Linked DNA regions of Homo sapiens: region 1 is linked to region 2. Evidence: fine-mapped expression QTL. A gene starts in region 2. The other region holds a variant in brackets. All regions are shown on one strand. Distances are from middle to middle. Region 1 holds the start of CHST4 (carbohydrate sulfotransferase 4). Region 2 holds the start of ZNF23 (zinc finger protein 23).

Region 1 (16,298 bases), 62 kb before region 2:
GCAGGGCTTATAATTAGGAAAAAGCTAACATTTCCTAGGGATTAGGAGAATAGACCTTTCAAAGTGACACCCTCCCTCCCTCCATCCTGCTTGGGGCCAGTTCTGTGTCCTGTGCGGGGCTTGGTGACTCTGGACCCTCCTTGCCTGCCAACTGCTGCTGGCCTGAAGCCCGTTTCCTCCCCAAGCTGGAGCTGGGCCTCCTAACTGCCCCCAGTTGTTCCCAGGTGTTAGTTGTCCACGGTTCTCAGGAACTCCCATGGAAATCCTCTGACTTCTTTTTCTTTCTGTGAGCACTTGCCCTGGGTAGAAAGCGTAGCTTTTGTGAAGCAAGTCCCATCCCTTGTCACTGAGCCCCAAGACACATCTGGATCTAGACGACACACAATGGGCTGACCAGAGAGCCAGGGGATACTTTAGGATGTGTCTTGGGCAAAACTCATTTCTGAAGACTGTAATGAGCAGCAGAGGCAGATGCTCCTGGGCCCTGGCAGAAGCGAGGTGATGCGAGTCACCAGGGCGCTTCATGGAAGGAGACTCTTCAATAGTGTCCTCGAATCCCACTCTCCCATTGCCAGAATTCCCAGCTGTTTGTGTCTAGGGTGGCCTTTGACATCGACCTTTCTCTTCTGTCTCTCAGCATCTCCCCATGACCCACTGCTGCCAAAAACTACCTTTTTCATTTTTTTTAAATTACTATTTATTCTTTTGGGACAGAGTCTCACTCTGTCAGTGATCTCAGCTCACTGCAACTTCTGCCTCCTGGGTTCAAGTGATTCCTGTGCCTCAGCCTCCCAGGTGGCTGGGATTACAGGTGCCCACCACCGTGCCCAGCTAATTTTTGTGTTTTTAGTAGAGACAGGGTTTCGCCATGTTGGCCAGGCTGGTCTCAAACTCCTAACCTCAAGTGATCCACCTGCCTCGGCCTCCCAAAGTGCTGGGATTACAGGTGTGAGCCACCACGCCTGGCCCAAAATCTTTTTTTTCCTTTTTTAGAGTCGGGGGTCTCACTCTGTTGCCCAGGGTGGAGTACAGTGGCATGATCATAGCTCACTGCAGCCTTGAACTCCTGGGCTCAAGTGATTTTCGATCCTCCTGTCTCAGCCTCCCCAGTAGCTGGGATCACAGGTGTGTCCAATCACACCCAGATAATTTTTTCATTTTTTACTAGAGACTGGCCCTCACTATATTGCCCAGGCTGGTGTCAAACTCCTGACCTCAAGCCACCTTCCAGCCTTGGCCTCCCAAAGTGCTGGGATTACAGGTGTGAGCCACCGCACCTGGCCAAAATATCTTTTTAAAGCATAAGTCTATCAACTTCCTGCTTAAAAATCCTTCAATAAATTTCCAGTGTATATGGGATTAAATAAACATCCCCACACCTCGCACCTGGGGTCCTTCATGGCCTGGTCTTGATTTCCTGTCACTCCCTTCTGTTTTAGTGCCTTAGGCTCCCGACTTTCAGTTCTTCCAAACTTGCCCTGTTATTTAAAAGCCCTGAGATTTTTGCAGGACAGCTACTATTCCTTCAAGAATCTAACCTGCCTTCTCCCTGAAAGGGAGAGCCTGCCTTCTCCCTGAAAGAAGTTCTGTCTCTTTCTCCTGAGACTTTTTTTTTTTAATTTTATTTTTTAGACAGAGTCTTGCTCTGTCGCCCAGGCTGGAGTGCAGTGGCATGATCTCAGCTCACCGCAACCTCTGCCTCCTAGATTCAAGCGATTCTCCTGCCTCAGCCTCCCCAGGAGCTGGGATTACAGCCACGCCCAGCTAATTTTTGTATTTCTAGTGGAAATGGGGATTCGCCATGTTGGTCAGGCTGGTCTCGAACCCCTGACCTCAGGTGATTCTCCCGCCTCGGCCTGCCAAAGTGCTGGGATCACAGGTGTGAAGCACCGCGCCCAGCCCCCTCTTGAGATTAATTTGTTTCCCAGACCTTCTGTTAGCAGCCATCCCTTTTGACAGTAAAAGCCTGTATGGGTGCCTCTCTTTTCTCTGGGCCACTATAGCTTAAGGGAAAGGCTGTATCTTATCTTACTTACACGTACATAACAATTCTACAAATGATCAGGGCTCGGCTCATTAAACACTTGCTAAATAAATGAGTAAGTGAGTAAATAGATGAGTGTGGGCTTGATCTCCTGATCAAGATCACACCGCTGCACTCCAGCCTGGTCAACAGAGCGAAACTTGGTCTCAAAAAAAAAAAAAAAAAAAAAAAAAAAAAAATAGATGAGCATGGGAAGAGGCACAGTAATTGCTAGAAAGCAGAAAACTAAAGGAGCTCCTTCAAGAGAATGAAACATAAGTATCCTTTTCTGAAATGCACACGGACACTCTTCAGCATCAGTGACTAAAATTTAGGTGATTGCATGGAACAGTGAGCACATTACCCATGCCGTCTCAGTTACTTGGACCAAGCTACTAATAAAGTCAGAGGCATGGGTTAGATGCAGTATGGCACAGTAACCCTTGGTCCAAAAAACAGTTACTATACCAAGCATGCATTAATTAAAACCAGGAGGGAAATTATTTTTCTCTTCCTGTATGAAAATTAGTTTTAGAAAACATTTAAAAAATAAAAGCCTCATTGCTGGGTGATAGGCTACCTTGCTTGAATCAGCTCAGTTACTAGGCTAACAAAGCAAAAGCAAAAAAAAAAAAACAAAAAACAAAAACAAAACAAAAAACCCAAACTCAGCACATTCCATCATCACCACCCCAAAAAATTAATTTAAAAAAATGTTGCCCCAACGATGGGTGAACGGTATCATCTTAAAACACAAAGGACAGCCATTTCTGAGGAGTCAAGAGAACCTTAGGAACTTGAAAACGCCACCAAAGGGTGGTGAGAAGGGAGAATCTATGTTTGGCACAGGAACCACGAAGGTGCCAGATGGGTGACCTCAAGCAGCAGCTGATTAGAGTGGGCTGAATTATAGATGTCCCCCAAATCGGTACCATGTAGCCTCGTAGAGACAAAATGGGAAATTCTGAGGGGGAAAAAAACCAGATAGATACTAATTTAAGAAGTCTGGGTTCCAGCCACTGGATGCATTCCTAACTTACACTTCCCATGAGATTATGCCCCTTACAAGTAGAAATTAGATACAGCAGAAGATACCTTGAGCAAAGAGAGAGAGAATGGGGTTGGATTGGGGAAACTGGCATCCTCACAAGCAGCCTGAAGACCTGGAAAACCTCTGAAGCTAGGCACCTGGGTAAAGGGTGTCCATATAACAAACTCTTCCTAGACAGTGTCAGGAGGATTGGACCTGGGTCCCGCCAGGGCTGTGTCACTAGTGCCAAGGACAGTGCATGGCACATAGTAGGTGCTCAAGGAACATCTTTCAACAAATGACAAGTGAACATATATTTGTACAGTGTTTTTTTTTTTACTATATGAGACCCAGAAAGGAAGATTGAGCAAGATATTATAAACCAAAAATAAAATTCTAAGGCCCCCCAACCATCTGAAAGGACTTCCTCCTCAGCCAGGACTCTTTTTTTTTTTTTTTTTTTTGAAATGAAGTCTTGCTCTGTTGTCCAGGCTGGAGTGCAGTGGCACGATCTCAGCTCACTGCAACCTCGACTCCTCAGGTTCAAGCGCTTCTCCTGCCTCAGCCTCCCGAGTGACCTGGCTAATTTTTTGTATTTTTAGTACAGACATGGTTTTGCCATGTTGGCCAGGCAGGTCTCGAACTCCTGACCTCAAGTGACCTCAGTCTCCTAATAGTGCTGTGATTACACCCATGAGCCACTGTGCCCAGCCAGGGGTCTTTTTAAAATTTAACCTGAGAGACTGTTTCAGGCCATGACAAGAAGTGGGGATCTAACATGCCTCATCATACCTCTCCAGCATTAACACCAACACAGACCTTAAGTCTGATAAGAAACATTTTACAACCTATTCTCTCTGAAGCCTGCTATCTGAAGGCTTCCTCTCAGTTGCAGTGAGCCGAGATCGCACCACTGCACTCCAGCCTGGGCGACAGACCCGTACTTTTTTCTTTTCTTTTTTCTTTTTTGAGATGGAGTTTTGCTCTTGTTGCCCAGGCTAGAGTGCAATGGCAGGATCTCGGCTCACTGCAGCCTCCCGGTTTCAAGCGATTCTCCTGCCTCAGCCTCCTGAGTAGCTGGGATTACAGGTGCCTGCCACCATGCCCAGCTAATTTTTTTGGTATTTTTAGTACAGACAGGGTTTCGCCATGTTGGCCGGGCTGGTCTTGAACTCCTGGCCTCAGGTGATCCACCTGCCTCAGCTTCCCAAAGTGCTGGGATTACAGGCGCGAGCCATCGCGCCTGGCTAGATGTATTTCTTAAATGTATTTGATTGAAGTCTCATGTCTCCCTAAAGTGTATAAAACCAAGCTGCACCCCGACCACCTTAGACACATGTTCTCAGGACCTCCTGAGGGCTGTGTCACCGGCCATGGTCACTCATATTTGGCTCAGAATAAATCTCTTCAAATATGTCACAGAGTCTGACTCTTTTCATCGACAATATTACATTTATTTTACACATAGAAAAGTATTTCAATTCCAATTAGAAGTTTCATACTTGTCCAAGGCCATGCAAGATAGACGTATCTTCTACCATAGCTGATATGTTGGCACCATAACTTAATCATATTGCACATGTGCGTGGTGTTCCACATTTTTAAAGCCCTTTTAGCTGCAATTATGATACTGATCGGTTAGATATTTTAGACAGTGATGAGACATTTCTTCATTTTTCAGAATAAATAAACTAAACTTTAATTGACTGGCTCATCCGGTATAAATAGCCTTTTCTGGATCAGAACCCAGGTTTTGGGGATCCCAGGGCTGAGAATTTTCAATGATCACACTGTCCCTCTCCTGAGCTAGAGAAAACCTACAGCTCCTTGCACCTCCTGTCTTCCACTCCCCAGCAGAAAACAGAGGAGAAGCTGCAGGAAGTACAGAAATTTGAGCTCCAAAGCCAGGATCTGAACGAGTCAGTTGGCACCAGGGGACCATCTACAAAATATACATCAGAACAGCCTGATCTGCTCTCTGGGCTCTTTTGGACCCATTTAGGGATAGAGCTAGTGGGGCTTGGGGGCTGCTGGTAAGCAGCTTGTGTTTTATTTTACCCAGAAAATTCCCCAGGTGATCTGATTTATCCCCTCTGCGCAAACCGCCTTCGCCACTGTAATCTCTAGCTTAGCTGCCAGAGGTTATCTGATACTCTTGCTCCAGCAGCTCTGGGTAATGGCTCTGCATTGGAGTCGTACACAGAAATTCTCTTCTTACCTTGTGGCTTGGGCTTCCCTGCTGCTTTTGAGAGGCTCACTGCTAGCCGGGCCATGCGCTTTTCTCCTCTGACTCACCAACTCCCCTCTTGGCTTCCTCCTCCTACTTGCTTTTGCATAACCGTCCCTACTCAGAGCACATTTCACTGTCCCTCCCTTCTGCCAAAAACAAAAAAGGACCCACCTTGCAAGACGGGCTTGAGAAAGCACTCGCTCCCAGGAAGCTGTGAAAGTAACAGCTTTAACACTGCTGAGACTCAAGGGGTGGGGAGACTGCTTGAGGTGGGCTGGGAGAAGCAAATGAGGAAGCATTTTCCCCCAGACTGGAGGCATCCTGGCATGTTGACTACTGAAAGGCAACTGTGAAGGTCAACTCCCTATGGGCAGAGTGGGGAGGTGGGGAAAAAGAGAAAGAGAGAGAGAGAGACCCAGGGAGCTAGTAGATGAGGCTGATAGGGAAATTTCATGACACTTACAAGCCGAAAGGCTACAAAATCTCAAACCTGATTTTTAGACCTTGTTCTTATCTCCAAGGAGAAAATGTGAAAGTTATTTCTTGCATTACACCTGCCTGCTCACTCCACCCTGGGTCTAGGGAGGTAACATTTCTCAGCCTCTGTGTTGTATTCAATATCTTCACCCTTGCTACAAGAGGTAATAAATATTTTCTGGGAGGACATAGATGTACTGGCTTGGTGGTACAGGAGAAAAAAAAGTCCCCTTTAAGAAAAAAAGAAACAAATTATCATTAAAGATTACAACCTCTCCCTTGCTGTGTGCCCTTGGGCAAATCACTTACCTACTCCGTGCTACTTTACACGGTTGTCATGAGTCTGAAACAATGGATGCCCGTGAATAAACGTAAATTGTGGTGGAGAATGGAAGCCTCAGACTTTCAAGTCCAAGATCTTGCCGGGCAAGTCATACCACCTCTTTGAGCCCTAGAATATCATCGGTGTTAAATAAGGGTAACAATATCTATTTTACAGTATTGTTGTGAATGTTAGGATTAATGCGTATGAAGCTCCTAACACAATAATATGACAATATAAGAGTTAAAAAGTGGTTGAATAATAATACCTTCCCACCGCCACCCACCCCCGCAACTCAGCTGCCACTTCCTTTTCCAGACCTTGGAAGAGAGAGAGAGCAGGCAGGGAGTTGTGTGAGCTTTGGGATGATCTTTGCCGATTTCCATCAGCTAAGTCCGCTAAGCACAAATGACAAGAACCTGTGGTGCTTGCCTTGACTTGATTTCAATTGTGTGGCTCTTCCTCCCTTCCTGTTTCTCTCTGGCAGAGAGAAGAGAAATTTCTCTTCCTCCAGTGAAGGACTTTGGGCAGAGGTGTAACTGGAAGCACTAGAACTGGGCAGTCGGTAGTTTTGCTTTTATGCACAAAGAGATGATTCAGGTGCTGGCACGACACAGCGAGATGGCACAAGGCTTCATCATGCTACTCAGAATAGTATGTAATAAATGAACTGTTTATTTCTGTAATTTTCCCATTTAATATTTTCAAATCGTGGTTGATGATGAGTAGTTAAAACTGGGAAACAAAACCGTGGATAAAGAGGGGACTCCTGTAGTTTTATTCCAGCCCTTTCTAACATTCTTTTCGTGTTTTTCCAGCGCCTTCCCAAATATAGTGAGGTCACTCAAATACACCATAACCCCAAGTAATTCAGATCACCTGCCATCTTTCCCGTGCTAGGAATTCATGCTGGCAGAATGCCAAGCAGCTGAAGAAAGGCATCCTCTGGTCACTAGTATACGGTGGTGACCAGCATGTTCAGATACTGGACTTCCAAGGGTCTACCACATTCCACAGCACTGGGAAGAAATTTGAATGCTGGTGTCTGATATCCAGGCCTTCTTGTGGAAGTCCTGCAGCCCACGTCTCTAAGGCAGCACTGTCCAATAACAGTCTCTGTGATGATGGAAATGTTCCATATCTGCACTATACAGTAGCCACTGTCCACCTGAAACGTGCTAGTGCAACCATATTGGATCGTGCAGTCAAGTAAGAGATCTAATCTTTTTCTTTTTGAGTCTCCAAAATCTGATAACAGATATAGACCTCTGTAGAAAAATGTACAATTGCTCATATACAAACACAAAATCATGTGCAATGCCAAGGAATCCCAAGTTTAAAATCCGTACAAAAGGCTGTGTGTACTTGAAGTGATTTAGACAATTGTCTCCTGGGGACCACTATTCAGCGGAGTCGCTGATCTCATCTTTGCCCTTGGAAGTTTACCATCTTTACTGTCTGGGGACCCACCTGAGTGGTGAAGAGACCTGGGGTCAGCTACTGACCTAGACTCTGATTTTCTCAGGGGTCAAAAGGATCTTTCTGCTGGTTATACTACCTACTCCTGCTACCTTACCCTGACCATCACTCCAAATGAGATTGCAGTTTCTTCACTTCCACACTTACCTACATATCTTTTCTGTCCCTAGTGACACTGAAAGGACAGTGATGCTTCCTTGAGTTTCTTTTCTTATGGGGGCTCTAGCATTCCTCATTTTTTTACGCTAAGCATCAGCCTGCAATGCAGATGTCCAGGCCTGAAACTGTTGAGGAACATGTCACTCCCTACATTGGTCACCAGCCCTGTTTTGCTTACCAAAGCCAGTGTCTGGCCTGAGTAGGTCACTGGCTAAGTGGCTGAGTTTAGAGAATAGATTCTGGAGGGCTTTGTAGTTTGGCTAAGTTTCTGAAGTCTATAGAGACTGGATCTTAGCATCACAGGGAGCCAGCGCCTTCGGAAGAAGTGTCTGCAAGCCAGGAAGGAAATCTTGGTTGCTGTAAATCCTATTATCAAATGGGTAATTGCTTTCAGTAGAACTTGCTTCCTTGAGCTGGGCCCTGGTGGTGGACATCTGTGTAGGGAATCCCCCAGCAATACGATGTCCCTTATCTGTGTTAGAAATATTTGTTTCAACAGTGGGAGAATAAGTTGGACTAGAATAGATTAGGGAAAAAACGAACACAGTTTTAAGTTTTTCACTGGTTCTTGCTTTTTTGTTGCTCCCTTGAAGGGCAGAGGGGATGGGAAAATAGGAAATAATGAGCCAGGAGCTCCTAGTAAAACTCAGGCATCCCTTATATGTCTTTGATGGTTCAGGAACATAACATTGCTGCATAATTGTGGCTTTATCTGGAATCAGGCTCCTGAAATTCTACCTCTGGTCTTCCAAAAACTGTCAGAGACTGCTTCAGGTGACCCGTGATGATTTAGTCAGGGAGTTTCTGGGGATGAAATCTGGGGAGACTATCAGTGTGTCTTCCGGTGGACTGTCACCTCATGTATCACATTGATCACCAATGTCTGTCTAAAGGTAAAATAACCTTAAATAGCTGTCAAATTTGCCCTCCTTTATATGTCAACAGCCCCTGTCTTCAGTCTGCCTTTCAATTTTTTTTTTGCTTGAATTTCTGCCAACAGTCTCTCACTTTTTCCCATATCCCCAATCTTATGCCCTCCAGCCTTCCCACTCTATGCTGCAGCTAGAATGATCTTTCCTAGGATGGATCTGATCCCCAGCATTTCCCTGATGAAAATGCTACAAAAGAGCTCATTAGAGACACAGTACAAATTCCTCGAGATGCTTAGTTAGGCACCTTTTAAGAGTTGGTGTCTCTCGGCCAGGTGTGGTGGCTCACGCCTGTAATCCCAGCACTTTGGGAGGCCAAGGTGGGTGAATCGCCAGAGGTCAGGAGTTCGAGACCAGCCTGGCCAACATGGCGAAACCGTGTCTCTACTAAAAATACAAAAATCCACCAGGTGTGGTGGCATAGACCTGTAATCCCAGCTACTCGAGAGGCCGAGGCAGGAGAATAGCTTGAACTCAGGGAGTGGAGGTTGCAGGTAGGTGGGTAGATGATGTGCTGGGAATTTGTGGAAACTCCCTTCTTATTGCTTTTATTTTCCTAGTGAGTGAGGGGATAAGGTTGTCAGCTGAGTCTGAGGATGGGGAAGGAGTTAATGGAAGCCTGAAGAGAGAGGAAGATATGGAGTGGCCACCTGTGAGGATACGTTAGTGACTATGCTAGGGTAATGAGGTAAGATAGATGAGTGAAGCCGAAGGTGAGTGG[T/C]CATAAACTTAAAATGAAAGCAGATAGCAGAGGTGTGTAGTTTTTCCAGCCCTGTTCGGCTACTACTACTTGTGTGGGGATAAGTGGAGAGTTAGATTTAAGTAAGACCTCTGCTTTTCTGGAAGAGTACAATGAAGTATTAGAGAGGCAAGGGAGCCTAGGGGATATTCAAAGGTGTAATTATGATAATGAACCATGGAATCTAAGCTGGTTAAGAGGAGAAAGAAGGACAGAAAGATTATAGCTGAACTAAGTTGGAGGGCAAGTTTTTTGGGAGTGAGGAGGTCAAGGATTTGAGACATCAGGGCTTTGAAAGTATCATCTCTAAGGATATTGAGTTCATGTAGAATTGTCCCAGGAGTAGAGTTGGAGAGTGGCAGGGGTCATATGACTGTAATGAGGGCCATATAGTCTGGTTAATATCAGAGTGAAAGCTGGAAATGTTTAGGAAGGAGGGAGCCAGAATAATCTGGAAGCAGCAATGAGGAACAAGAAAACTTATTCCATTGTGGAGTGTAAGAAACAGCCACCACTTGAGAGGACTGCAGAGAAAGCAGTGTCTTCAAGGGAGACCTAGTTTCCTTTAGAGCAAGAAAGTGAAGAGGAAATTAAGACACTTCGAGAAAAGATGGATTTTGTGGATCCCAACAAGGGTGTCGGGATGGGGAGGGTGGGAAATGGGGTCAGAAAATGAGACATTTGGAGCCATTTGGGATGAAACACAAGGGATAAGGAACAACTGAGGATCCTGGGCTACTTGTGTGACTGGCATAAACCAGGATAAAGGAAATAATAACAGATAATGATGGCCTCCAGGAAGATAGTGGTGGCCAAACTGAAAACTTGGGGAAGGGCAGTGTGAAGTACCTGCTGGAAGAGGCTGGGGTGCTCTCTCTTTACTCTTGGCAATGGTGACGTGGAGGCCAGGGTAGGGGTGTTGTTGAAACTCTAGACATTGAGAAACTGCATCACCACTTCTCCAAACAATGCAAAGCATCTGGAGTCAGCTTGGTTGAAGGAACAAGATTTTTGGGCTGGGCATGGTGGCTTATGCCTGTAATCCCGGCACTTTGGGAGGCCAAGGCGGGCGGATCACCTGAGGTCGGGAGTTCGAGACCAGCCTGACCAACATGGAGAAACTCCATCTCTACTAAAAATACAAAATTAGCTGGGTGTGGTGGCTCATGCCTGTAATCCCAGCCACTCGGGAGGCTGGGGCAGGAGAATCGCTTGAACCTGGGAGGCGGAGGCTGTGGTGAGCTGAGGTCATGCCATTGCACTCCAGCCTGGGCAACAAGAGTGAAATTCCATCTCAGAGAGTGAGAGAGAGAGAGAGAGAGAGAGAGAGAGAGAGAGAGAGAGAGAGAGAGAGAGAGAGAGAGAAAGAGTCTTGACTGAGGGAGAAAGAAGAGATAGATCACGGAGCACTGAGGGACTAGGTAGTTCTCCAGGGGATATCACAGGAGTTCCTGGGTGCTGACCTGTGTGACATGAAGTCATGTAGTCATACAGTTGGGGTGGATACAGTGGCTCAAGAATGCCATTGGGTGACTTATTTCTACAGACCATCAACTTCATGCTTATTGCCTCATGGCCAGGAGACAGCTGTGCACATCTAGGGCTCACATCTACATTCCAGACAGGAAACTGCAGAAAGGTTAATAGCTGCAGGGCATATGCATCACATAAAGTAAAGACGTGGAAGCACTTCAGTCTCCAAAGCTCTTGGTTCATGTGGGTTGCTCTGCTTAAAGCGCCCTCTCTGCTTTATTGCCTGGTTAACTTGCGTCTTCTCTTTCAAGATTCAACTCAAGTCAGCATCACCTTCTCTGGGAAACCATTCCTTATGTCCCTAGGCTGAGTTAGGTGCCCTGGTCTGTGTGTTCAGAGCTCATGGCAGATTGCCATGATGACCTCCATTCTCCCATCTTTGTATCCATGCCCTATGACATATAACTCTGCCTGGGGTCTCAGCTATGCTACTCGCTTTGATTGTAGGGATTTTTTTTTTTTTTGAGATGGAGTCTCGCTTCTTTACCCAGGCTGGAGTGTAATGGCACAATCTTGGCTCACTGCAACCTCCGCTTCCAGGGTTCAAGCAATTCTCCCGCCTCAGCCTCCCCAGTAGCTGGGATTATAGGCATGTGCCAGCATGCCCGGCTAATTTTTGTATTTTTAGTAGAGACAGGGTTTCACTATGTTGGCCAGGCTGGTCTTGAACTCCTGACCTCAAGTGATCTGCCTGCCTAGGCCTCCCAAAATGCTGAGATTACAGGCATGAGCTACCGTGCCTGGCCTGTTGGGATGTTTTTAAGCAGAGGCTTTAAAGTAACTTGTGCAGTTGGACATGTTCTTGCTCTTGTGTCTTAGTCACTGCCGTGAGATCATGCCTGCTGGATGAAAGGCACGGGAAGCACATCCAAATTACCATGGTTGTCCTAGCTGAGGCCATCCTAGATCAGCCAATGGCAGCTAACCACCAGACACTTCAGTGAACCCAAGCCAAATCAGCAGAACTACCTAAGCAACCACCCTAGATGCACAAGAAATGAGGTTTTATTGTATACCACTGAAGTTTCATGGCTGGTTGTTACTCAGCATTATAGTAGCCTTAGAAAATTGTTGCAGAGTCCCTTCAGCATAGCCACAAGCCTTAGCCATGTCTGTCTTCCCAACTCACGTTGGGAGAGAATCACCTTTTATCTGTGTATATTACCTCTTGCCTGTGTATACCTAGCACGTAGCACAATGCTTGGCCCATAGAAGGCGCTTGGTGAAAGTCTGGGAAAGGAAGGAATGAATGAGCCTTTGTTCAACCTTAAAAAGGAACTTTTTTTTTTTTTTTGAAACAGAGTCTCTCTCTGTCACCCAGGCTGGAGTGCAATGGCATGATCTCAGGTCACTGCAACCTCTGCCTCCTGGGTTCAAGCAATTCTCATGCCTCAGCGTCCCTAGTAGCTAGGATTACAGGCGTGTATCACCCTGCCCAGCTTTTTTTTTTTTTTTTTTTTTTTTTTTTGAGATGGAGTCTTGCTCTGTCGCCCAGGCTGGAGTGCAGTGGCGTGATCTTGGCTCACTGCAATCTCCGCTTCCCGGGTTCAAGCGATTCTCCTGTCTCAGCCTCCTGAGTAGCTGGGACTACAGGTGCCTGCCACCACGCCCGGCTAATTTTTCTATTTTTAGTAGAGATGGGGTTTCACCATATTGGTCAGGCTGGTCTTGAACTCCTGACCTCAGGTGATCCACCCACTTTGGCCTTCCAAACTGCTGGGATTACAGGCGTAAGCCACCGTGCCTGGCCTAATTTTTGTACTTTTAATAGAGACAAGGTTTTGCCATGATGCCCAGGCTCATCTCAAACTCCTGACCTCAAGTGATCTGCCCACCTTGGCCTCTCAAAGTGGTGGGACTACAGGCGTGAGCCACTGCGCCCAGCTGAAAACAACAACAACAACAACAACAAAAAACAGGTGCACATTCCCTATAACTAAACAATGTAATCAAATACACGCACCCACAGAAAACCTGGTCCAACAAACATATGTGAAGCGACAATATAAAACCAAGTCTCATCACTGTTTAAAGCACTTTTCTACCTCAAGTACAATGATTGTCTCTCAAACATGGGGCACTTAATTTTACATTTTATTGTATTGTATAGTTCAATCCAAAGATAATCTAAATCCCACAAGTACATTTTAAAAGGTCGAAGGTAAAGAAGTAGATATGACTCAGTGTCGATATTTTTTCTATTATTTTCAGTACGCAATACTAAATCACTCTAACCACTGACGTTTCCTAAACAATGTCAAGAAACTTGCATTGCTTAAAAAATTATTTGTATTAACATTAAAAACAGAATTTCCACTAGGAGACCACAGAGGACACATGTATCTAGTAGCCTAGTTAAGTATGTGGCTGGGGTGGCGAGAATATCATCTTTATGAAAGGTCAGTGTTCACATGGGATTGTGTGTTTGAGGCACACTAAGAAAATTAATTTTGTCAAAGAAGAGGGTTTCTGTAGAGCAATAGTGAAAAAGGGTGTGGATAGGGGGCAGAATAGAGCTTAATTGTGGAAATCTGAGTGTAAGGTTAGGGCATTTTTATATTCTACTTAGCAGAGAATAGTTACAACTTTATTTTTTATTTTTAAGACAGGCTCATTCTGTTATATAGGCTGGAGTGCAGTGGTGCAATCACAGTTCACTACCACCTTGACCGCCCGAGCTCAAGCGATCCTTCCACCTCAGCCTCCCAAATAGCTGGGACTATGTGTTTTTATTTTGTGTAGAGAAAAGGTCTCACTTTGTTGCCCAGGCTAGTTTTGAACTCCTGGGCTCAAGTGATCATCCTGTCTTGGCCTCCTAAAGTGTTGGGATTACAGGTGTGAGCCACCACATCTGGTTGCTTTCAACCTTTGAGCAAGGGAATGACATAATGAAGTGTTGGGTCAATCTAGCTGCTAGATTCTAGCAGTATGGTGAAGTGGTTTTTGCAGAAACATGTTTAATAGTCATATCAAATAATTTAATGCCAAAACACTATTATGCAGATATACCCATTTATTTAAAAATCACATATTTCTTAAAGTCTAGATTGATGCGAGGATGCAAATGAACAAGAAATCATTTTGAGATCATAAGGTTTGCTCTTCTCTTCCTAATAGTCATCTAGTTTGTTGCCCGTTGTGAATCCATGAATTACTCGTTTTTTTTTCTGAGTATTGGGTTGTCCTCATTTTCCTTTGTTTTGCCTTTGATACTCTCCCTTGGGTCCTGTTGGTCCAGTTCCTTGAAAAAATAATTACAGTAGGGGTAGAGGTCAGAAGTAAGAATGAATGAGACTCCATGAAGCCAAAACCAGAATCAACATTGGGATAAACTGTTTTAAGCTCCCTTTCCAAGAACACAGTTCACCCGAGTTATGATAGCATTTACCTTTTGGGTGTGAGGATATCATTTTGCCTTTGAAGTGTGTTTCATAATCCACTGATTGGACACATTGCTATATTGCTGTCACTATTTCTTTTTATTCAAGAGGAACTTAAGAGTTAGGAAGGATAAATAACTTTGTCCAAATTATTTTGTTATGTTAGTCACAGAAGCACGTCTTTTCACACTCCATGCCTCTCTAAGACCTGCTGTTTCTTCTAGAATATTCTCCTCCCCACCTTACTCCCATTCCACCTGCCAAAAATTCAGCCTTCTAAACCCTGTTCAGATATGCCTTTCCTGTGCAACCTTCCCTTCTCCCCGTGCCAGTTCTTTCTCCTCGCCCCCCAAAGTAAATTGTACAAACCTCTGTAATGATGCACATGCGTTTACATATATGCCTCCCTATAGGACTATAGGGGTCTTCCATTTTGTGCCCCCAGCACCAGCATCTAGTACACAGTAGGTGCTTAATTAACGTCGGATACAAGATTAGAGAATCTAAAGGCAAGGAGGGAAATTTTAAACCCTTCCAAAATCTAAGCAAAAGATAAAGAGGCAGCACCTAAAACCACCCCCACTTGGATTAATTTTTTTTTTCTTTTTTTTTTTTTTTTTGAGACAGAGTCTCGCTCTGTCGCCCAGGCTGGAGTGCAGTGGCGCGATCTTGGCTCACTGCAAGCTCCGCCTCCCAGGTTCACGCCTTTCTCCTGCCTCAGCCTCCCGAGTAGCTGGGACTACAGGCACCCGCCACCACGCCGAGCTAATTTTTTGTATTTTTAGTAGAGACGGGGTTTCACCGTGTTAGCCAGGATGGTCTTGATCTCCTGACCTCGTGATCCACTAGCCTCGGCCTCCCAAAGTGCTGGGATTACAGGCGTGAGCCACCGCGCCCGGCCTAATTTTTTTTTTCTTTAATGTATTAGGGAAGGAGGCTTCTCAGCCCTCCCGCAGCCGTCAGGGGGTCGTCGTGGGGCCGCTTTCCCGGCTTCACCTCGGGGGCTCCCATGCGATCCCCCGCAGCCTCCCCGGCCTCGCACGCACGGTGGCCGTGACCTCTCCCCACACCGCCCCGCAGCCCCTACGCTCTACATAGTGCGCATGCACTGTGCGCCTTGCTGCGTTTCCCAAGCTGATGCACCCTCTTCTTTACTCCTCTTTGTCCTTTTCTCACGTTTCCTTCGCCCAGGAACTTTGTTTTCCCCCTTAGAAGACATCTGCCTTTCTGGCCATATCCTCCACCCAGCGCCTCCCTGGAGAGCTGGCAGAGCCCCGCTGCGGCGCCAGGAGGGGGCTTCTGCGCCCTGGGTTGCGCTTCCTCTTGCACGAGGCTTTTTCCTTCCAACTTCTCCAGTGCGCAGTCGGGCGGTGAGGACTCAAGGAACGTGAGCACAATTTGGTTAGGGGGCGAGGAGGAGGTCTACCCTGGCAGGCAGGCCGGCTTTTCTAGCTGCTTCTAGCTCCCTGCAGACAAACCACTGGTCCCACAGGCTTAGGGTTGAATCCTGTAGGTGGATAGTCCTGGGGTCTCACACACAACCCATGCCAGAAGAATGTTTTTATTTTCTTATTTTTGCTCACTTGTATTTTTTGGGGGACGGCGGGGACAGGGTCTTGCTCTGTTGCCCAGGCTGGAATGCAGTGGTGCTATCATAGCTCACTGCAGCCTTGAACTTCTGGGCACATGTGATTTTCTTGCCTCAGCCTCTCAGGTAGCTGAGCCTACAGGTGTGCACCACCACTAGCAAGAACATTATAGAAGAAACACCTGGCCCCCCCCCGCCCCACCTTTCTTTTTTTTTTGTAGAGATGTAGTAGTCTTGCTATGTTTGCCCAGGCTGGTCACTCCTGTATTTTCTAATTTTTAAAAGTGCGCATGTATTTCTTATGTGATAAAAACCATTAAATGCAAAAATATCTTCTTTGGAAGTAGGGATCGTTTGTGCAGCAGACTTGGCGGAAATCTCAAATATCTGTTGAAAGTGCATAAAAGAA
Region 2 (16,298 bases):
AACATGCTTTTCTTAAAACATTTCAATGGGTTTCCATTGACCTTGGAATAAAATCCAAACTCTTTAACATGGCCTGCAAAGCTCTAATGACTTCATGGCGCAGCACTTCCTCCCTCCTCTCTCCCCATGATGTGTCAAGCTTTTTTTTTTTTTTTTTTTCCACTGAAGGGCCTACACATGCTATTCCTCCTGCCTGGAATGCTGTCTCCTTGATTATGTGCCCAGATAGTTCATTCTTATCTTTCAGGTCTCAGCCCAAGATCAAGATCACTTCCTCAGGCCTTTCCTTACCTCCAAGTTAAAATGGTATTCCCTTGATATTATCTCCTAAACACCTTGCTCTTTACCTCCCTCACACGAATGAAAGTTTACAATAATATATTTATCCAGGTGTGGATTTACTTAAAAGTTGTGTCCCCCACTACAGTCTATGTTCTACAAAGACTGTAACATGTAAGCTTTGTTTTTCTTCATCTATAAAATAGATATAATACCTACTGGATCTTCTTCAGTATGGATGTGAAGAAAGCATTACATAATAAACATAAATGTGTCTAATAGTTAATGAAGTGCAATTCAGATTAAAGATGTCTTTGGGCCAGGCATCATGGCACATGTCTATAATCCTAGCACTTTGGGAGACTAAAATGGTTGGATCCCTTGAGGCCAGGAGTTCCAAACCAGCCAACGCAGCATAGCGAGACCCCATCTCTACAAAAAAGAGAAAAGAAAGAAAAATGTTTTCATGGCTCAGAACACCTGAATGCAAGGTAACTCACCAGGAAAGGAGTGTAAGTTAGTTGAATAAAGCAATTGGAACACACGAAGTTTCAGGTTTTATTACATTTTTATTATGTTCAAATAGTGTTGAGGTAATTTATTGTTAACAACAAGAACAATACATAGCTTCCTTGTCTTTTAAATCTTTCAAATACAAATAATTCATGTTAACAAAAATTTATATGATGTAAGAAAGCTTCCCAGAAGAGCCTCTCTTAGCCATTTGGGCCCACAATAAATTATCATCCTTGGAATCTCTGGATTTTGAGGCAGAGTGATAGAGAAGACAAGTAGGAACTGGGGCACTGGGTGATACGTGTCAGGTTCTGACCAAATGAATTCAAAGAAAGGAATAGGGTGAGATTAAGTATTTGGATATCAGGCTTAAAATATAGCCAGAGGGAGGCTGGGCATGGTGGCTAATGCCTGTAATCTCAGCACTTTGGGAGGCCAAGGCAGGTGGATCACCTGAGGTCAGGAGTTCGAGACCAGCCTGGTCGATATGGTGAAACCCCATCTCTACTAAATATACAAAAATCAGCCAGGTGTAGTGGTGGGCGCCTGTAATCCCAGTTACTCGGGAGGCTGAGGCCAGAGAATCGCTTGAACCCGGGAGGTGGAGGTTGCAGTGAACTGAGATCGTGCCACTGCACTCCAGACTGGGTGACAAGAGTGAGACTCCTCAAAAACACACACACATATATAGTCAGAGGGGACCAACACACCAGGTTGGAGGACAATGGTTCTGAGGCCAGCCCCAGAACCTTGGAGAGCGCCACAGACACACCCCCCCCCCCCCCCCCACTGAGTCGGAGCTAGCACCTTGGACAGCACCACGGCTTCTCTGTTTTCTACTGCTGTCCTTTGTACCTGGATGACACTAAACACAGGTTGTAGTGGTCACTGTTAATTTCTTGGGGCTTTCCACTCCGGTGTACCTGGCAATTGTAATCCTCTAAAATCAGCAGTCTTTTACAAGGTTCTTTATGACACGGTGGGGGTTGAGATTCTTTCTCTTCCTTCTAGAAACTTCAGCATCAGAGCTGATAATTGGACCGATTCCCTTGGGAGGTCTATGGGATTGGTACCTAGTATCATTGTGTTATGCCAGAGGCCAACGTCCTTCAAGTTAGGGGAAAATGTGTAATACCTGGTCATACTATGTAAGGAAGAATGCTCAGGGCTCTTCCTAGGCACATATAAGCAAATTATCAGGCAATACATGTGAGAAAGAAGGTATGTTGTATTCATTTGGAGACAGGCTGCTTGATTCTTTTTCATGCCCTCTCCTCACGTGCTAACCCCCACCTGTTAACCTATTTTCAGAAACATACAATGGATTGGATCTGCTTTCTCTGTGGTAAAAATCTTCCGAACTTGATTGTTGTTAGCATGTTTCTGTGAGGTTATGCACAAAAAACTTTGAAGGAGTTTGGCACTGTAGGTCTTTCTCCTACTTATAATATGTCATATTTACAAACTTATGCATTACTAACTTCATTACTGACAAATAAAAAAGTGTAATCAGGTCCACAAATAATTTAGAGGAGGGGAAAAGTTAACATTAATTGAGCAACTACTGAATCCTGGTCCCTGTTGTATGTACTTTAAGCAAAACATTATGTGTAGTATTTACAACAACTGTGAACTATTATCTCATTTTTCAGATGAATCATTGGAATTTCAGAAAAGCTAAGTGGTTGTCCAAGGTCTCATAGCTAGTAGGTGAAGAAATCAGGACTTCTCAGTCCTGTACATTTATTTTTAATTTTCTTTTCTCTGTGTTTGTTTTTGAATAGTTTCTGTTGCTATGTCTTCAAATTCACTCATCTTTTTTCTGTAATGTCTAATCTGCCGTTAATCCCATCCAATGTATTTTTATTGCACATTATAGGTTTTTATCTTTAGAAGTTTGATTTGGGTCTTTTTTATATGTTTCATTTCTCCACCAAACTTTTAGATGTATCAGATATGGTTGTAATAACTTTTAAATGTCATTGCCTACTAATTCTGTTGTGACTATTTCAGAAGTCTATCAGGATTAGTTTTTAATGTAATTTCTTGGATTATGAATTACTGGTCCAAGTAGATAGTATTAATTTAAACTCTATACTTAATGATGCAAACTATGATTATAAATTTTTAGAAGACATTTCTACTACCACTTCAAAGCTTAGGCAAGGACCATAAGATTCTTTGTTATCTCTCTTTGTTCATGAGATTTTTAAAAAATTTATCCTTTCATGATTGGATGAGTGTATGTGTGTGAGAAAAGTCTCTGTTCCTATTCCTTGTTCCTGTAATATGCCTCCTGCATATTATAATTCTGCTTTCTCAGATATCAAGACTTACAACTCTTCACCATTCCCACCCCTGTTGGCCAAAGCATCAGCTGAGGTCCTCAGTCCAAACCAATGCCTCTGGTTTTAGTTTCTTGTTTGGTTTTGGTACGTGGGTACACTTTCCTGTGAGTTAAGTATTTAAAATGATGTCGAATATTATATCTTATTCTAAATTTCTAGATTCTAGTTTATATTATTTGCTACATTGCCCTCAACTGAATTCTGCGTAATATTTATTGTCTTAAACTTATTGTTGTGAGATATTAATATAGCTGTGCCATTTTCCCTTTCCCTTAATACTTGTCTGATATATCTATTTTCCATTCTTTGACTTTCAATACTTGTGCTTTCTTAAGTTTCAGTAGTACCTTATAAGCATCTAACATTTTCTTTCCTTCCTTCCTTCCTTTCTTTCTCTTTCTTTCTCTTTCTCTCTCTCTTTCTTTCTTTCTCTCTCCTTCTCTCTCTCTTTTTTTTTTTGACGGAGTCTCATTCTGTCACCCAGGCTGGAGTGCAGTGGCATGATCTTGGCTCACTACAACCTCCGCCTCTCGGGTTCAAGCAATTCTCCTGCCCCAGCTTCCCCAGTAGCTGGGATTACAGGTGTGCGCCACCACGCTGGGCTAATTTTTGTATTTTTAGTAAAGACAAGGTTTCACCATGTTGGCCAGGCTGGTCTTGAACTCCTGAGCTCAGGTGATCTGTCCACGTTGGCCTCTCAAAGTGCTGGGATTATAGGCATGAGGCACTGTCCAGTCACTTCTAACATTTTTTCTGCGTAAATTTTAGAATCATTTTCACAAGTTTTAAAACAAATCCTATAGGGGTTTTATTTGGTATGACGTTGGACTTATGGATTAAATAAAGAAAACTACCCTTCCTACTGAAGGATTACCTGTGCCTTTCCATTTACACAAGGGGTTTTCATTGGTTTAGTCCCCAAATGTTTAAAATTTTCTTGATATATGTCTTATACATTTATTAGTAAACTTATTCCTATATATGTTTGGTTGCTTTGAGAATAAGACCTTGCCCTACCCTAGTACATTTCTCCACATAGATTAAATGATTTATTCACAGAACTCACAACATCAATAAGTAGGTAAAAATTTTGTAGCCTGAAAACAGCCTTGAACTCCTGGAATGAACATCAACCAGACAGTTGTTTTGCCACAGTTTTCATGAGAAGAAGCAGGCAAAGCCATCTTTACTCTGTCCTATTAAAACTGGAAACAACAAGAAATATTTTTTCTTTTTTGAGACGGAGTTTCGCTCTTGTCGCCCAGGCTGGAGTGCAATGGCGCTATCTCAGCCCACCACAACTTCCGCCTCCTGGGTTCAGGCGATTCTCTGGCCTCAGCCTCCCGAGTAGCTGGGAATACAGGCATGCGCCACCACGCCTGGCTAATTTTGTATTTTTAGTAGAGACAGAGTTTCTCCACGTTAGTCAGGCTGGTCTCGAACTCCCAACCTCAGGTAACTCCCCCCACCTCAGCCTGCCAAAGTGCTGGGATTCCAGGTGTGAGCCACCACGCCTGGCCAACAAAAAAGATTTTTTTTAACATGAGAAGATTGTCAGCTTTCCCTGGTGGTCAGAGAGGAAGGGCTTTAGAGAGGTCTTGGGGCTGCAGGGACAAAGGGTGCAGGAGAAGAAGCCTTAGAGCTGAGCAGGAGGAAACTGACACTACATGGCTGCAGGCCCAGCATGGAAATGAACTTCTAGAATGCTGTAGTCGAAGAGCCAGCTTAATTTTTTAACTCTTGTGTTGTGTGATTTTTCCATCCTTCCTCATTTCTAGGGGTATTAGTTAGGCTATGGGCTTGGAAATTAATTTGAAGAACCCAAATAAATGTGGTTTAAATTTGATGAAAGTTTATTTCTCTCTCATGTATCATCAGAAAGTAAGCCATCTGGGGCTGATATAGCAGCTCTGTGCCTCCTCCTTTTAGTTGCTCTGTCATCCCCAGCAGCCACACCCTTATTCACATGGTCCAAGATGCTCTGATGCTCTCCCTTGTCAACATTCCACCTGGTCGATGAAGGTTTGGGGGCAGGGAGGGCATGTCCCTTGTCTTTAAGGACACAGCATCACATTTTCTTACAGCCTGTTTGCCAGAAGTTGGTCACATGGACACACTTTGCCTTAAAGAATGCTGGGAAATGTGTGCTTTTTCCCTGAGCTGTCATGTCCCTTGCTAGAGATTCTGTAACCTTATAAGAATGGAAGAACAGGGGCTGACAGACAAGAACTGATCTCCATCTCTCCAGACCTACCATAGAGCTTTTGAAACTTGGTTTGTGCATTATTATCTCATTTTTCTGATATGTCTGAAGTAGGAGTAGGAGCTTTGTGGTTATTTAGAGAGCTTTATTTTCTCAACTGTAAAATTAGGCAATGGGTTTATGATGCAAACATTTGGGGCCAGCATTTATGTGATCTGATTCCTTCCTATTTCTTTCAACAAGTCCTCACTCCTGATTTCTGACCCTAGAAAGAAGTGAAAACCAGAACTTATTGACAAGAGCAACGTAATCCCCAGCTATTACTCTGCCCAATCATTTTCTTAATGAACTCATTTTGGAAAACAGTGAAGATCAGGGTCAGGGCAAGGCAGAGAAGGGCACCTGGCCATGGTCACTGTCAAGGTCCAAGGCATAAGACATATCCTACCCTTGGGGACACACAAAGTAGGCTTCTGCCTAAGAGTTAGGGCTGGAGCCTTTGGACCATTGTCAACAACAAATGTTTATTGCTCTCCTTCTTTCTGCCAGTTATTCTCTAGCTGAGGATGATGATGTTGAACAAGATAGATACAGTGTCTGTTCCCTGCAGCCACCAGAGAAGACAGACATATAAATAAACTATCACCATTAAGTAAGTACACAGTGCTGTGATGGCACATAAATGAGTGTCCTGCCTTATTCTGGGTGATGAGGGAAGGCTTGCTTCCCATGCAAAATGGGATTTGAGCTCACACTTCCAGTAACAGTCAAGATGGAGGGTAGGAATGGGAAGGGAAGGGCATTCTAGATTTAGAGAACAGCATTTTTAGCATGTAGGGCTGAGGTAGAGTCAGGGAATGAATGGGAGTGATAAGAAGCCACAGAGGCAAGTGGGAGCCAAATACCAGTCTCCAGTGCAGCAGCGTTGGATGGATCAGAGCTGGAAGGAAGAAAAGCCCACATTACCAGGGTTAGGGGGTGTGTGAGGGGGTGGGGATTTTAAGGGTCGTCCAATCCAGTGGCATTTAGTACTGTCTCCCTTCCCCCAGGGCTCATTTTGGAATTTTATGGTAGGTATTTTGTTATATTTGGTGTCAGTGGTAACATTGCTACTAGCGTTGTGGATAGGAGCCAGGATCCTGCAATGTACAGGACAGTCCTGCCCACTGAAAAAATGTTCACACTTTCAAATGTCTTGCTGAACATTCAGGTAGGTGAAAATTCTATTTCTAAATTATCTGAATCTAAACCTGTTTTCTGGATAAACATGTATTTTTGCACAGTTTTAACATACACTGATCTTCCAGGAATGTAATTATTGTATAATCAAGAGACGATTGTCCTGTGTTTCATTCAGAACTTCACGAAAACATGTTTGCCATTTTGGATCATAATTTTGTGACTTTTGCAACAATGTAAGTCACAGCTTTGTGGCTGTGGCACTCAGACAACGTCTATGTGTAAAGGCGACCACCTTATTAGGTCTCCTGCAGCAGCCAAGACCAAACACATTGAAGTATGTGTTTTTAAACGACAGATGACGGTCCTCTTTTTTTTCTCTTTCATTACACTTAAGGCATAACATTAGTTTTTAATATGTAGGTGTGTATGTTATGTATGATTTTCTAGGCCATTATATATGAATATCAGGTCAGGAGAATAAGATGGACATTACAAACTATTTGTTAGAAAAAGGGGGCATTGGGTGTGACAGCGCGCCATCCACTGGTCCATTTCCAAGACTCCCACACGTGGCTGCACCTGCAGCTTCACCTCCCCGGGCTGGGTCCCCGCTTGGCTCTGATTCTTACCTGCCCCATTCCCCAGGGGTAACAGTCACCGTGGGCCAGACCCGAGCTAGCCGACAGGGATGCGGCCACAGCTGGCCGGGCGTGACCACCACCGAGGCGCAGCGACCTTGCTCCTAGAGAGGCCCGGCCGCCTGGTGACGCACTTCCGGCAGCGCCGGGGAGCAGTCCGCTACGGAGGTGAGTGCAGGGCTCCGGGCGCTGTGTGCCGTGCCCTGTCCCCCAGGCTCTGGGTCCGGTTGAGACGCACTCCCACCCTGGGTGCTGCAGGGTCTCCCGTGGCCTACGCTGCCAGGAGGCCCAGGCTGGGAGAGGGAGCAGGGCGGCGGCCCGGGGTGCTCTTCCGCGCTCCTCGACTCCAGCTTTGGTCTTTGTGGCTCAATAGCTTGCGCCCATTGGAAGGGGAAACGCACGTTGCTGTCCCAGCCACGAGGCCCTGAGCATTTAGCACTTGGTCGACGGGGGAAGATGTGTCGGTGCAGCTAAAAGATGGAATATTTGCGGGCGTGAAGCGGCCCGAGGTGATACCACAAGTCTTTTGACATGCTGAGGTCTGGCAGGAACATTAACCTATGTGCATCCCGAGTATGGACCGTGTGCTCCCAGGCTCCTGACATAGGGTCATGAATTAGGGCCGAGTGGGAGCGCAGAGCCCCTCCCAGTCACCCGGCAGCAGAAGCAGCCCGGCTTTTGGAGGACATTGTCTCCTGGAGCAGTGTCAGTCCCAAAAGGTAACTCAGCCCTGCTTCTCTCGGCTCAGGGTTGACAGTGACCTGGGAATGACTTCTACAACGTAATTACGAATTCACTCAGTTTTAGAATATATTTAGTAGTCTCAGAATCGCTAATTCATACCCCCATGAAAAGCAAATTTACTACCTAAAGTACAGTACTTGGATACAGGTCTTTTTGTCTTTACTCTTATGGTATTTAGTCAAAATACTGTTTTCCAAAGTTGCTTACCCCTTTTCTTTCCTACCACTTAAGTGTGGTTATGTTCACTGTAGTATAGTTAAGCACATTGGCTGTTCTTTGTATTACATTTTGGGTCCTCAATTTCACCCCATCCTTGCTGGTTTATATATTTATTTAAAATATATATTTATATGTTACATATATAGTAGTAAACATCCATGAACACACCACCCAATTAAGAAAGAGAAGATTGCCAGTACTGCTGAATTTATCAATGTGTTCCTCCTCCTCAACCCAACTCCCAGCCTCCAACCCCTAGAGGTAACAGTTATATTGACTTTTGTGTTAATTGTAGCCCTGTTATTTTAAAAAATAATTACATATGCATGTATCTGTAAGCAATGTACTTAAATTTTTTTTTTGAGCTTCATATAAATGGCACCATTGTGTGTATAAGTCATCTGGGACTCGCATAATTCAATGTTAAGTTTCCAAATTCATTCTGTGTGTAGCTTCTGGGTAATGTTCCATTGTAAAAACTGTATGAAAATTTATCGATGTATTTTCAATGGACATGTGGGTTGTTTTCAGTGTTTTGTTATTAAAATGTGCTGATAATATTTTTGTACGTACTTCCTACATATGAGAGTTTCTCTAGTGTGTAAGTTTTTAAAATTAGGCACAAATGTTGAATTATGTTAAACATCTTTGGCATCTGTTGAGATGGACAGTGTGTTTATCTTTCTTTGATTTATTAATGTGAAAAATATACTAATTAGTATCTTCGTGGGATAATCCTACTTACTCATGATGTATTTAATGAACTATTGGAGTCTATTCCTTGATAGAATTTTTGCATTAGAATTCATAAATGAGACTGGTCTGTAGTTTTTGCATCAGTATTGTGCTGGCACCATAAAAAGAATTGGGAAACTTACTTTGCTGTGCTCTGCTACGGTTTACATAGTGTTAGAATTACTCATTTCCGAAACATTGAAAGAATTTGCTCATGACACATCTGAGCTCAGTGTTTTGTGAGAGTTAGTTCTTCACTGGCCATCTTGGTTTAATTAGGTAAAAGTAATCAAGGATTATGTAGAAAATCTATATAATGTCATAACAGGAAAAAACCTGGAATCGTATTTAAAAAAAAAAACTATCCCCTTGGGAGGGAGCCAAGAGACCAAAGAATGCCTTGGACGAGTCCAGCTTGGCAAGTAGATGAGTTTATTAGGACTTACATACTTACTCCTGGATGGCAGCAGGACAGCTTTAGAGACCTGTGATGCCCCTCGTCTCTAAGTACTTTTTAGAGAATTTTCTGGCTGTTTGCCTACTGCATTTAAACGATGAGACTTTTCTTGGTAGGTTCTCATATACTTTCTAGGATGTTTACGTTCTTGCAAACACCTGCTCCTCTGCTGAGCCCCATGGTCTTGACTCACTGCCCGGTCTTCAAGGTTCAGGCAGCAGGTATACACCCTTGACTAGCTGAGCGGGGTAGCTATCACACTACATATGTAATTGGTAGAGTTGGTTTATTATCTAAAAATGGAGTTGTATATTCTCCCATCACAGAATAAGTTTTCTCTTTAAACACCAGATAATATATTTTTTTAAATGGACATGAGTCACAAAAAAACCCTGAAAAATGTGTAAAGTAGAAGTTAGTAGATTGGGTTATATAACCATCATGCAATAAAGCCAGAACTTATAAACAGAAGAAATTAGCAACAGTAAACTATCCTAAGCAATTACTAGGTCAGAGACAAAACAGAATTGCTGACTGACTATAAAACAGTAATTAAAACATGAAATATAAAAACCTCTGGAATGTGGCAAATAGTGTATCCCAAGGAAAATTTGTGGCCTTATAGGCTTTAATTGCCAAATAGGAAGAATGAAAATAAATGAATAAGTCATGCAACCTCAAGAAGGTGGGAAAAAAGCCTTTTGTAGTCTAAGCTTCCCCAAAAGCAGAACGTGGAACAAAGATTTGTATGTAGGAATTTATTTAGGAATATGGTCACAGGGGCAGAGTGAAAGACAAGGGGAGTGAAACAGAGATGGGAGAACTGGTACAAGGATGCATTGGTATGCTCGGCCCTCAACAGGCTCTGCCTTGCAGGGCGTTTGAGGAGCCTTGGAGTCTTAAGGCTGCCCCGCTGGGGGATCGACGGGGAAAACATTTATCCATTGGTTTCTCTCCCCTATTGGTCAAGGGGGTCCCACAGGTGTTAATGCCTCTGCACTTCAGGGCCCAGCAGGTGTCCACAGGTGTCCCACATAGGACACCAGAGAAGCCCCAGGGCAGGAACCAGGCATAGGTGATGTAGGTCCTTGTGAAGGTTCTGGTAGCTTGCAGCTTCACAAAGCTGACTAACCTCTGTAGAACTGGACTGAGGATGGGATAAGAGGATTGGAGTGGTGCTTACACTGCCCCTTACAGAGCTGAAGGAACAAACTAAGAGCAGAATTAGTGAATTTAAAACAAATAGAAGAAAGTAGTGTTGCTCAACTAGAAAAGCTGGTTCTTTGAAAATAAAAGGAAACCACATTAAAATAAGTAAAACACTGCTCAGCCTAACTGTATTAGTCTGCTTGGGCTGCCATAACAAAATACCATAGACTGGGTGGCTTCACCAACATACTTATTTCTCACAGTCCTGGAGACTGGAAGTCCAGGATCAAGGTGCCAGCTGATTTTGGCTCCTGCCAGGGTTGCCTTCCTGGCTTATAGATAGTAGCCCTCTCGTTGTGTCCTCACATGGGGGAGGCGGGGAGTGAGTGGTTTCGTGGGCTCTGGGTCTCTCCTTCTTCTTGTAAAGGCATCACCCCTATTGGACCTCATTTAACCTTAGGACCTTTAGTCCCACCCTTAGGACCTCATTTATCCTTGTAACCTCCTGACAGGCCCCGTCTCCATATACAGTCACATTGGAGGCTAGAGCTTCAACATATGAATTTGGCAGGGGCATAAATGTTTAGTCTCTAACTCTAACCCTGGGAAAAAGGTCTAGAAAGCACATATATTCAAAAGAAGAAGTGGGAAAAGCAAACTAGCTCTGGATATGGAGGAAATGGAAAGAATCATGAACCAGTATTTTCTGCAACTCTGTACTAGTAAAGTTGAAATCCTGGAAGAAATGGATGATATTTTAGGAAAATGTAATTTCAAGACTGACTTTAGGGGCAGTAAAAGTCAGAAAATCACTAGTCCATATGTTTTTGAATACAGTGAACAAGAGGCTCTGGGTCACGGGACTGGCTGCTACAGTGATCTCCTCTCTCAGGAGCTGACGCAGAAGTGTAGGCCTTGGCTCATTCACTATCAGAAGACTGGAAAGTTTGGGAAACAGCCTGGTTCCTAACTTCCAGCTCAGCTTCCTAAGGACAGCCTGTGCTGTCCTTAGGAGGACTGACCTCTCAAGACCTCTCCAGAGGTGTTAGGATTCTTGAGGACATTCAGAGCTCTGAGGAAGTGGGGCAGGATACTGGGGGGCAGCTGCCTTCTCCAGGCGCTGCCTCCCTGGGGTCTGACTCCCCAGGCTTGTGTACTGGGGCTGCAGCCCAGCCAGTCCAGCTTCTCCTGCTGTGATACTGAAGATAATGCTTGTGTTGAGAAAGAGAAATAAGTCAAAGATCTTGGTATTGTCCTATTTCTTGAAATGAATTGTGGATACATGACTCTTTGCTTTATTTTTTAGGCTCTGCATACATTTTATTTTATTTTTATTTTTTATTTTTTTGAGATAGCGTCTCACTCTCATCACCCAGGCTGGAGTGCAGTGGTGTGATACTGGCTCACTGCAGCCTTGACCTCCCGGGCTCAAGTGATCCTCCTACCTCAGACTCCCGAATAGCTGGGACCACAGGCATGTGTCACCACCTCTGGCTAATTTTTTTTTTTTTGAGACGGAGTCTTGCTCTGTTGCCCAGGCTGGAGTGCAGTGGCGCAATCTTGGCTCACTGCAAGCTCTGCCTCCCGGGTTCACACCATTCTCCTGCCTCTGCCACCCGAGTAGCTGGGACTACAGGCGCCCGCCAGCACGCCCGGCTAATTTTTATATTTTTAGTAGAGACGGGGTTTCACCGTGTTAGCCAGGATGGTCTTGATCTCCTGACCTTGTGATCCACCCGCCCTGGCCTCCCAAAGTGCTGGGATTACAGGCTTGAGCCACCGCGCCCAGCCTAATTTTTGTATTTTTTATAGAGACAGGGTTTTGCCATGTGTCCAGGCTGGTCTCGAACTCCTGAGCTCAAGTGATCCACCCGCCTTGGCCTCTCAAACTGTTGGGATTATAGGCACGAGCCACCGTGCCCAGCAGGTTTTATATGCACTCTTCTTCTTCTTTTTATTTTTAATTTTTATTTGTTTATTTTTAAATTTTATATATATACTCTTCAGTGTGTGTGATATGTATCAGAATTGTAAAGTCCTAGGGTTCCTGGCAGTGAATTTCAGTGTCATAGCCTGGAGTCCTAGGCACTGAGCCAGTGAACAGATCATTCCCTTCTTGGGCAGCTCCTGTTCGCACTCCTATTTGGATGCAAGCTGCCTGTGTCTTGCATTTTCTGTGAGGGGCTATGTTGCTCTGGTTGGGGTGGCTTGCCTCACACTTGTCTCTCTTTGTGTTTCTCCTTAGCTCCAGCCCTTCTCTGAGACGGGGACCAGGGGATGGCAGCCATGCACCTGACAGCCTGGCCCCAGGTGAGCTGTGGGGTCCTTCAGCTCTTCCTCTGGGCAGTTTCAGATTGAAAAACATTGAGAAGGGGAGCTGGTGAGCCTCGGGATGACAGCTGCTTCCACCTGCTGGACTGGAACTTGTGGGAAAGAGGTGTTGTGCAGGGAGGGCGGCAGAGACCAGGACAGTAGCGAGTGGAGGAAGCGGGAGAGTGAGCAGGAGAGCAGGAGGGTGGTGGTCTTCTGCACACTGAGGGTCTCTGCTCCTCTCTACAGGAGCACCCCCAGCATAGGGCTCTGGGTGAATGGGGACGTGGAAACCGCCCCTGTGGGATGTACTGTGCAGGGGTGTCAGTGGAGCACAGTCGCAGAGGATTGGACTATCTGTGGTGGGGATGTAGAGAAGAGGAATAGCAGGACCTGATCAGAGAAGGATGGCCGTGCCTCTAATTCAGGGGTAAGGGAAGGTCACAGGGAGTGGAGTCAAGGGAGGGGGAAGACAGTCACATGGGACGGAATGTCTCATTGTGCTTGTGAAGCTTTCAAAGTTTAGGATGCAGACTTTAGGTCTCTGAGAAGAGCTTTCCACCCTGTCCTGCAGGAAAGAGGTGTTGTGCGGGGAACCTGCAGAACATAAACCTGCAAACCAAATTTTCCATACATTTTCAGGGACTTCACGGATCCCCTGAAGCTCATCCATGGACTTCCATGGACTACAGGTTGGGAACAGTCCACAGTCACACCAGTTGTATCTTTGGAGGCTTACTATGCTCCAGGAGCCATACTAAGCCCTTTGTATGGTCGTTTGGTCCTGACAACCGCCTCTGTGATAAGTGCTGTGTTGTACTCTTTCCACCTAAAAAGAAAAGGCAAAAGGGGAGTAGAGTAACTTGCCCAGGATCACAGAGTTATTGTGTGATTCAGAACTGCTTAGCCATAAGACAGCTGTGGAACCAGTGATGTTAACTTGGTCAGATTTGTGATGTGTATGGAATAATTTGTAAGGAAGATTCAAAAGCACGGTGACCACTTCACAAAGAAGAATCCCACTGGTCCCGTGACATGGGCTTCATCAAGGAAAGCCATCATTAAAGAGGGATCCAATTCAAGTAATGCTTAAGATAGAAAAATCATGGCCGGGTGTGGTGGCTCACACCTGTAATCCCAGCACTTTGCGAGGCTGAGGTGGTTGGATCACTTGAGGTCAGGAGTTCAAGATCAGCCCAGCCAACATGGTGAAACCCTGTCTCTGCTAAAAATAGAAAAATTAGCTGGGTTTTATGGTGCATGCCTATAGTCCCAGCTACTCAGGAGGCTGAGGCAGGAGAATTGCTTGAGCCCGGGAGGCAGAGGGTGCAGTGAGCCGAGGTCATGCCACTGCGCTTCAGCCTGGGTGACAGAGCGAGACTCCAACTCAAAGAAAAAAAAAAATCTTTCGGACATAGAGACTCAAAGGATTTGTGGTGATAAGGAAGGTGGGAAGTCAAGAACAATCCCCAGGTTTCTGGCTGAGGTTTCTTGTGAGGGTGATTCTGACCCCAGCTGAAGTGTAAGTTCAGAAGGAAGTGCCAACTTACCAGGGTGGTGGTGGCGGCACACAGTGAAGACATTATATTTTGTGCAGAGAAGTTACTTGTTGAAGGTCACACAAAGAAGGCTCACAGAAACACCTAAAGGTTGGACTAGAATTGCTGATGGGTGGAGGTCAGTAAATTCCAGGAAGACACATCCTAGCAGAGAGGAGTTGAGCAGCAGATCCCTGCCAGTGAGCCCCCATGGTTGTTAGAGCAGGCTGAGGTGGGCAGAGGGTAAGCCTCCCAGAGGCTGCAGCTGCCCAGGAGGGGTGGTTGGGCCTGGGAGTGACACGAAGCGTCCCTGAGTGGTGGAGCTTGTGCCAACCACATAGCTTAGTGATGCAAAGGGGAGAGTAGCCGGCCAGTGGGAAGGCCGGTCTCCCTGCTTTCCCAAATGTTCTTGGAGAAACAGTGAAGCTTTCGGAGAAGTTGGAAAGGATGAGACTTGAATGGGAGAGGGTAAGGAAAATTCTGGCTTTCCAGGAAGACCCTGCAGCCTGGGCAGCATGGAGCATCCTTGGCTGGAGGTGCTCAAGCAGAGGCTGCACAGCCCCTTGTTGGGGGGTCTGTGAAGGGAATCTGGTGGGGCTGGATGAGACAGAAGCCGTGGATGATCTTTGGGGGTGGCTTGAGCTGTGAGGATGAGGGCGATGGGTGGGCAGCAGAACAGGGCTGAGGTTAGGCGCAGGGGAGTGGTGTGGGACCTGCTGGTGGATCAGCCCCGAGTTTGCTGGGAGGGAGCAGCTTATCTAAAAGAGTGGAGTTGGCTTTAGAGAATTTGCTTATGGAAATTTTTTTCTTTCAGCCTGTCTTAATGTGACCTCTTATTTGTGTGAAAAATGGCATGAGGTTTCCCTGCTGTGGGAGAATGTGGATACTTTGTAGTTTACTTTCTCGATATTTTTTTTCTGAGATCTTCCCCTTGTTGTTAATACTAATTTTGTGCTCTCACAAGCACCCTCCCCAAGCCCTTATACTGCGCTCTGCCCCTCACTTAGGGCCTGAGCTATGGAATTGGCCCTAGGGCAGCAGGAACCTATTGTTTCAGAAGTCGGTGACCTTTGAGGACGTGGCTGTGTACTTCACCCAGGCGGAATGGGATGGCCTGTCCCCTGCACAGAGGACCCTGTACAGGGATGTGATGCTGGAGAATTATGGGAATGTGGCCTCCCTGGGTAAGACCTCTCTACCCTGGGAACCTGGAATCTGCCAATTGGGGTTCCTGGCTTGCTTCTCCCTTACAGGTTACTGAGGGGATCTCTGGTAATCCTTTACTGAGTGAGAACCCCAGAGCTGTTCCTAATCTAGACTTAGAGGTTACTGGCAGGGGCAAATGCCAAGCCTTTTGTAGGCCTATATAGGACTTTGCTTGGAACTGGTATGCACTGTTGATCCAACCCATGAAAGCTATGTTTTGGAAACACTGGAATCCAGTTGCTTCCTGTTCCACAGTGGCATCTTCAGTTGCCCCCTCATCTTACCTGTCTTGAGTCTTTTCAAGGATCTCAGTGTACTCTGGATTATTTCAGGCCAAGGTCAAAAAGTGGTATCCCTTTGGGCAGAATCTCCCTGCTTGCCCTGCATGAGGTCTCCTAGGCCTACAGTCTGGGCCCTAACCAGGCTCTCCCACACGTTCCCAAGCCTTCACCCCCAACCCCCACATTTGCCTCCCAAAGCCCTTGGAAGTCTCCAAGGTCTCTTTAGTCCTTCCTAAGCCCCACAGTACTTTCCCGTAGTCCTGAGGCTTGGGACCTCCTGGGGTTCTTACCTTCCCTCCCCATTGCTGAGACAGTCTGAGAAGAGGCTTAGGAATTTGTCTGTGGGAGTTTATTCATCTGTCTCTCCTATTTACCTCTCCCAAACCAGGATTTCCACTTCTCAAACCTGCTGTGATCTCACAACTGGAGGGAGGAAGTGAGCTGGGGGGCTCATCTCCACTGGCTGCAGGAACAGGCCTCCAGGGCCTCCAGA

The links. PIP is the estimated chance that this variant, and not a neighbour inherited with it, causes the effect. A credible set is the group of variants that fine-mapping cannot tell apart.
Region 1: its variant is the best candidate, but not a certain one, in a credible set for the expression of ZNF23 in blood mononuclear cells (TOPMed, PIP 0.60).

What each region holds. Positions count from the first base shown.
Region 1 is chr16:71,515,469-71,531,766 of GRCh38, reverse strand. CHST4 (carbohydrate sulfotransferase 4) reads right to left here and starts at 5,341. Exons shown (of 2, transcript NM_001166395.2): 1 at 5,272-5,341. It overlaps LOC105371335 (a long non-coding RNA gene), which reads right to left. Exons shown (of 2, transcript NR_135172.1): 2 at 13,921-14,162. RefSeq lists an enhancer at 5,098-5,708. The variant T/C (reference allele first, on the strand shown) is at 9,371.
Region 2 is chr16:71,453,246-71,469,543 of GRCh38, reverse strand. It overlaps ZNF23 (zinc finger protein 23), which reads left to right and starts at 7,297. Exons shown (of 5, transcript NM_001381984.1): 1 at 7,297-7,334; 2 at 12,716-12,780; 3 at 15,376-15,502; 4 at 16,194-16,298. The coding sequence starts at 12,748. It overlaps LOC124903709 (a long non-coding RNA gene), which reads right to left and starts at 7,232. Exons shown (of 2, transcript XR_007065105.1): 1 at 6,252-7,232; 2 at 829-5,611. RefSeq lists enhancers at 7,179-7,338, 7,609-7,698.